Linked DNA regions of Homo sapiens. The protein of the gene in region 1 purifies or fractionates together with the protein of each later gene. This does not show direct contact. Each region holds a gene or a part of one and is shown in the gene's direction. Other genes may lie near its edges. The genes, in order: RAPH1 and ENAH.

Region 1 (3,826 bases):
TTCTGTGAATTTTCCTTGGTACATGAGAGAAATAAGTACTCTCATCAACTTATGATAAATTGGACTATTAGGAATAAAACAATCTCAGAGCAGCTCCTAAACAAGAGAATAAAAATGGGCCATCCCAGCACTTATAAGGGGAGCACATCTTGTAATGAAAGTCTGTGCCTATTGTTAATGATTACCAATGCAAACTGCAGAAATCAGTTGACATTGTCCCACAAGGAAAAAGTGATGCCAGTAAAGTGGGGGAAGAGATGGTAAATAATTCTAGAATGAGCAAAAGTGCTTAATTAGTACAGTATACTCAAGGTCTTGCATAACCCACACTCCACGAAAACCGCATCGTAAACAGAGAGTGAACAGCACCTCTCCATTGCTACATCTCCAGAATATTGTTCGGTTATGTTCATGTGGTTATGGAGCAATAAGAATATATACCATTAATTTTTAGGTCTTTCAAATTGTTCACCAAGTTTTGTGTTTGATATTTATGAAGTGATCTTTAACACATCTGCATTGTTAATTTAAGCATGCACAGAAATTTGGGTAATGTTTGAGTAGATTGCCAAGCGCTACTGTGATTCATGAATGAATTTCTCATAGTCTTCTGCCTGCAGTTTTATAGTTTGAGGGGCACCCATATTTGTGGGTTAGAGTTAGTAAGAATATGAATCCAGTTATCAAAGTATTCATCCCTGAGGTTTTGAGTTTTATTGTGGTGGTGATTTTCTCATGAGAAGGTAGACAACACTTCAGTTTTTCTTGAGGGGGAAAAAATGTACCCGCTAACCTTTTTTCACCCATGATTTGAGCCCTAAAACAACAGCCTTTATGTTTTCAGTGCAGGATTTCTTGGAATTTCTTGCTTGTATCAATCCTGATGATAGCCATCCTGAACAGATGCTTCTGGTCTGTTTTCCTGGAATAGCAGACATCCTTTTGAACACTAATGATGCCAGGAAGAGAGTAAGGCTAGAGGAGGAGACTCATTTTAACCCCAGTCCAGTGGCTTGTCCGACAACAGGCCATTTCCCTTTACATTCCTCCACAGACAGAAATGGCTATTAAAAATGTTTTAACCTCATGTATGAACTGAATTTAAAAAACCACTAAAGTGATACTTTATACTTCTGTTTTACTCCCTAGTGGGTTTTCTTTAATTTGGATTTTTGTTGGGATGTAGCTTTTCCTAGACTGTATTTCTGTAGCTCTTTTTCTCTGGTGTATTCATGGAAAGCATCTACTGCCGCACGACACTAGTACTGTGCCTTCTTTCACTGCCCTCTGCTCTGCAGCTCTCACCCAGCTTGGCTGCTTCAAGTCTGTGCAGTTGACTTGGCTGTACTGAAAAGTGAACAGCATGGATTAACTCATCCTGCTGCTGAGGGCAGTGCAAACAGGTGCTTATTAGAGGTAGTGACTTGCTTAATTAGTGACACTCCTAATTTCTACTATGGATAATTTCAAAGTAGAATCACTCTATGCTTAGAGTTTTGGCACCAATGCTGTAGGGCAGCAGAATCTATTCTCAGTAAAATAACTTATGGTTTATTAGATATTCTGTATTGGATTTTACCAGCTTGACTTTTACTGCTCAGATGCTTTCTTTCCCCCCCTTAGACGCTGTAATTCTCTTGGGAAGAGTAACTATTCTTAAGGTTTTTACAGATACCCACCTTAGTTGTAAATTGGATAGTTTATATTTCTGGGACTTTTTAAATGAAAATGTGGAATGTTAAGTTACAAAAGACTTTTCATCAGAAAATTTCAAACAAAGTAAACATGGCGTTTTATAGTCCTCTAAAATCTAGGTGCTCCCACCCACCAAAGGCATATCCTGCAAAGGGCTGTGAACTATCTTGGTGAACTGTCTTGGGTCCCCTTTCCATGTATGTTTTCTTGTCACTGAAAACAAACAACGCTGAGTTTATCAAGAAAATTTAAATTGGGGGATCATAATAATTCCAACCAAGTGACAACTCTGACATCAAGGTTATTAGGAGCTGTACATCCAATTCAAGTTTTATTTGCTGCTATTCTGGGAGAATAAACTTGTATATGGAGAATAAACTAATAAACTTGTATCGAGGAAATCCATAAAGTTATAAATTAGCCTGAAAAATATTTCAGGTAATGGTGTGGATTGGCCTGCTTTGACTCTCAGCCACCAACAGAAATCTTTGTCACCTTTGTTCCTCAGCTAAAAGTAATTTTGTTATAAACACAAAGTGACTTTAAACAGGTAAAAAACCCATTCCTATTTTTGTACATTACCAAAAGTTTTTCATATACCTACAGAGCTAACTAATTACAACTGATTTAATCCACTCAAGTTTAGACCAGTTAAACCCATAGGATCCTGTATGGTTATCAATGTGATGCCTTGCTTTTCATAAAATAGGTATAATTGGGTCATACACTTGACGAGAGGGTGACTGTTTCTAGGGGAAGAAAACCCTTTAGATTGCAGGTAACTTTCACTTTTTTTTTTTTAATATACACTTTACATTTGTATAAATTATGCAGGGTACTCCTAACCCTGTAGAAATGTATGACCTCTCACAAAGTTGAGATTTGATCCAAAGAGAAATGCAAGTATAAAAGAATTAGATACTTATTATCTTTTAAGGTTTTTTTTTTTTTTTGGTAGAGATGGGGGTCTCACTGTGTTGCCCAGGCTGGTCTCAAACTCCTGGCCACAAGTGATCTTCCTGCCTCAGCCTCCCAAAATGCTGAGATTACAGGCATGAGCCACTGTACCCAGCCTTTCCTTATAAAATTCAAAGAGAAAATTTCTACACCTTTATCCCTCAAATAAAACAAGTGCTCAGTTCTTACCGTGCCCTTGCAAGGTCTATATGTAAAAGAAATCTGAAATTTAGCTGTAGAATAAAACTTGATAAATAAAAAGAAAAAACATACATTTCTCCAGTTGGTTTGCTCTTTGCTTGTTGAAGTAATAAACCGTTTTAAAGAGAAAATACTTGCTGTAAACCCCCAGTGCCTTCAACTCTTTTGGCAGAATATTTTTAAAGAAATCCAGCAAGCAAACTTTGAGGTGCTAATGAAAGTAAAGGAAGGTGGTATTTCTAGTTTTGGCAGAAATGAAAAGTGTCTCACAAGAGACATCACTACCCACGTGGGGTCTGGCTGCTTTCTACCAAAGACATTTAGAGAAGTGAATTGAGTCAGGGTGATGGTGAACACTACATATTTTATAGATGGTTAAGTTGAGAATTAATTATGTTTATCATGGATGGCTACTAATACCAAGCTCATGATTGTTGCAGCCTCAACGTCTTAGGCAGTAAAACTTGTCTGCAGCACTAAAGGGGGAGAAACCCTTATATTTTGCAAACTGTCCATTCGTTAAATTTATTGTAACCTAATACCAAAAACTGCCGTTTTTCATATTATTTCCCCACCTCCTACTTTTTTTTTTTTTTTTGCTACTTGTAAAATAACCCCTTCTAGAAAATAAGCATTAACTGGAATGTTTCAAACAATTTTGCTTCATTTTACTATCAGCCACTAGTGAACTCTTACAGAGATGTACATTTAAGATAAAATTAGCTTGTGCTAAGTGTTTTAAAAACATTGTTTACTGTTAAAGGGGAATTGCACATTATATTTAACTGGGATTGCTCCCTCCCTCAGTTCTTTAAAAAACAAGAGTCAAGGCTCACACCAACTTGTAGGCTGTGGGAGCTTTGCCATAGGTAGATACAATGTAGAAGTATACTTTTTTAAAGCATGAAGAAGACAAGGAACTTCATTATAATGTACCAGGTAGAGGACATTATTATTCAAAGGATTATGCACA
Region 2 (3,826 bases), on another chromosome or scaffold:
ACTCCTCTAAACTCTGTGCTGGGAGACTCTTCTGCTTCTGAGCCAGGCTTGCAGGCAGCCTCTCAGCCGGCCGAGACTCCATCCCAACAGGGTAAGGCTTTCATTATTGCTACTAACAGCTAATCACTTGAAAATGTTATATAGCAGTGACTTTAATTGCCTGAATGGATGGGTAGGATGGTTTTGATCCTTGAACATTTATATGCCATAATGCCATGCTTTTTTTTTTTTTAATTAAAAAAATTAAAGTAGAAAAATGTTTTTCCTGTTGGATTAATTGCATTTGGAGGAATTTCCTTATTGAACTAGGTTTTGATATCTTTTATAGTATCGCAGTTAAAGATGTTTTCTAGTATTTAAGAGCCCCTCATAATACATTTCTTTATTTTTTTCTTTTTTTTTTTTGTTTTTTTGAGACAGAGTCTTGCTGTGTTGCCCAGGCTGGAGTAGAGTGGCACGATCTCAGCTCACTGCAACCTCCACCTCCCGGGTTCCAGCAATTCTCCTGCCTTAGCCAGCTGAGTAGCAGGAGTTACAGGCACATGCCACCACGCCTGGCTAATTTTTGTATTTTTAGTAGAGACAGGGTTTTGTCATGTTGGCCAGGCTGGTCTTGAACTCCTGACCTCATGTGATCTGCCCCTTCGGCCTCCCAAAGTTGCTAGGATTACAAGTGTGAGCACCGCACCCAGCTAATACATGTCTTTCACTGGGAAAACTTTGCTTGACACGTTGATCTACCACACAATAAATACATGATCTAAATTGTTTTCCTTCATTTTTCTGGGAGACTTAGAGAGATATATTTAGTGCCCAACTGTAGTCATTAGATACGTCATCCCAGAGTTTCCTTTGGAACAGTTCTGATCTTGGGCCCTGTTTCCTTCTTGCCTTTCCTATATTAGATGCCCCATGTTGGACTTCCAGGATAGGTGTCACCCTAACCCTTGGAGCATTATGACTTTGCAGGAGGAGTAGAGAGGATGGCAGGGTTCATATATGCCCTAAAGGGTTCCAAGGTCCAAAATTACAATAAGTAGTGGCTTGAAGGGGTAATCAAGAGAGAATAGCATCCTCTGTAGTTATTCTCCCCGTCCCTACCTTATTGTTATGGTAACAGGGAAGGCAGGATGTAATCTCTAAGTGGATTATTTGTAAGTAGAAAAGGACCTGGTTCTGTAAGTAAATAAGAAGATGCTTGGCAACCCTAGTTTTTAAAATATGATTTAAGGAGGACTACAGAAAGAAAACTGAAAACAAATTTGTACTTAAACATTGCAAGGCTTGTTATTGCTGTATATGTATATATTTTGTTGTTGTTGACTTACAAATTTGCTTAAAAGGTTAGTCAGAATTCTAAGACGTTCAGTTTGGTTTCACCATGACAGTTATACTGTACAAAATGGGCACAGTCAGCCTGACAAAGTGACCTGCTGTACCCTCAGAACTCTTAACAACCCCTACAGAAGGGACAGACTATTTCTAGATGCTTCTTTTAACAATTGATGTTTTCTGCTTGTGTAACTGCTCAAGCTGAAAAAGTTAGCAATTACCACCCAGTGTGCAAAATAGCATTTTATTCGTTCTGAAAACACCCCTCTTAAACCTTAACTAAAAGAGCACCTACTGTTTCAGGATTCTGTTATTAAATAAATTCTTGTTCACTCCCTTTGTGATTTTATAACATTTGAACATTTCTCTTCTTGCCCCCCATTTTGTGGGATAAAAACAACTCTACTTCAAATCCTATGGTATTTAATTATTTCCGAGCGTTATTTTGAGGTTTTACTTTGTACTAGTAAATTCCTTTACTTCAGTGATTCTCAGCCTTGGCTATCCATTGAATTTAAATGTGAAGTATTTTTTAAAATGCTGAAGCTGGGACTTACTCCTCCTTCATGTTTTTAATACAGCCACTTTGACTGTAAACAATTAAATGTATGTGTTCACTGTTACTGAATTTACTGTCTCAACACTTAAGGTTAATGTGGATTATTTTGGGTCTGATATTTCAAGTAGTACTAACTGCCATCCTATATACTAGTTTGTTTTTTCAGGGACGCTTACCTCTCTTCCAAATTTTATAAGTATTTATTTTGCTTATTTACCAAATCCCCATGAAAAAAAAAAGTCTTAATTAGATGATCTGTTGCATAGTTCTATTACTAAAGCTCTAACCTAAAGTAAGTAGTTATATATACTTGGACCTTACATTTCAGTATCTTTCAAAAACTGATCTAGACTTTTACAACTATGATAAATTGGACTCATTAAGTAAATACATGAGTCAGTTTAATTTAGCATGGCATTCTGCGTACCTTCCCACATAAAATAATATCACTCAGCTCTATTGTTGATGGTCTTACTTAACATTTCTCTCTCTCAGGCATTGTCTTGGGACCACTTGCACCTCCACCTCCTCCACCACTCCCACCAGGGCCTGCACAGGCTTCAGTAGCCCTCCCTCCTCCCCCAGGGCCCCCTCCACCTCCTCCACTCCCATCCACCGGGCCTCCACCGCCCCCTCCTCCCCCTCCTCTCCCTAATCAAGTACCCCCTCCTCCTCCACCACCTCCTGCCCCACCCCTCCCTGCATCTGGATTCTTTTTGGCATCCATGTCAGAAGACAATCGCCCTTTAACTGGACTTGCAGCTGCAATTGCCGGAGCAAAACTTAGGAAAGTGTCACGGGTAAATACCTTTCTGAAAAATTTTTTTAATATGTCTTATTCTTCCTAAATATCTAAAATGTTGAATTTATTGTATTCTAATTTTATGAAATGTTATGAACTTCATTGATTTAAAAAATTGAAATAATTTACCCTGGCGCAATGGCTCATACCTGTATAATCCCTGCACTTTGGGAGGCTGGGGTGGGCGGATCACCTGAGGTCAGGAGTTCGAGACCAGGCTGGCCAACATGTTAAAACCCTATCTCACTAAAAATACAAAACTTAGCCAGATGTGTGACACATGCCTATAATCCCAGCTGCTCGGGAGGCTGAGGCAGAAGAATCGCTTGAACCCGGGAGGTGGAGGTTGCAGTGAGCCGAGATCATGCCACTGCGCTCTAGCCTGGGTGACAGAGTAAGACTTTGTCTCAAAAAATAAAATAAATAAAAATTAAAAATTGACATAATTTAAATTTTTATAGTGAAGTTGTAAGAATAGTATAAATAATTTCTATAAATTCATCACCTACATTCACCCATTAACATTTTACCAGTATTTGCTTTTTTATTCCTTCTTTGGATATGTTTCCTTCTTTACACATGCACTTTTTTTGTTTTTTCTCTTGAGACGGAGTTTCACTCTTGTTATCCAGACTGGAGTGCCATGGCGCGATCTCAGCTCACTGCAACCTCCACCTCCCAGGTTCAAGCGATTTTGCCTCAGCCTCCTGAGTAGCTGGGATTACAGGCACCCACCACCATGCTTAGCTAATTTTTGTATTTTTAGTAGAGATAGGGTTTCGCGATGTTGACCAGACTGGTCTTGAAATCCTGACCTCAGGTGATCCACCCGCCTCAGCCTCCCACAGTGCCGGGATTACAGGTGTGAGCCATCGCACCCGGCCTACACATGCACTTTTGTTTGAATGATTTGAGAGTAACTCAGAGACACAAGCTTCTATTTTCCTAAGTACCTCAGTGTGAATTTTATAAGAACAAGGACATTTACCTGCATAACCAGTAATATAATTATCAAAATCAGGAAAGTTAACATGATAGAATACTGTAATCTACAAATGTATTATTCAAATTTCATCTATAGTCCAATGACATCTTTAGTGACAGTTTTTTTCCTAGTGCAAGATCATTTATTG

Evidence for each region.
Region 2: the proteins of RAPH1 (region 1) and ENAH purify together in Homo sapiens (affinity purification with western blotting, with the first as the bait; one study listed by BioGRID). This does not show direct contact.

The regions. Positions count from the first base shown.
Region 1 is NC_000002.12:203,434,192-203,438,017, reverse strand, and holds part of RAPH1 (ras-associated and pleckstrin homology domains-containing protein 1), read left to right. Parts: 3' UTR 1-3,826. UniProt on the Homo sapiens protein: Mediator of localized membrane signals. Implicated in the regulation of lamellipodial dynamics. Negatively regulates cell adhesion.
Region 2 is NC_000001.11:225,513,461-225,517,286, reverse strand, and holds part of ENAH (protein enabled homolog), read left to right. Parts: coding exon 1-91; intron 92-2,386; coding exon 2,387-2,691; intron 2,692-3,826. UniProt on the Homo sapiens protein: Ena/VASP proteins are actin-associated proteins involved in a range of processes dependent on cytoskeleton remodeling and cell polarity such as axon guidance and lamellipodial and filopodial dynamics in migrating cells.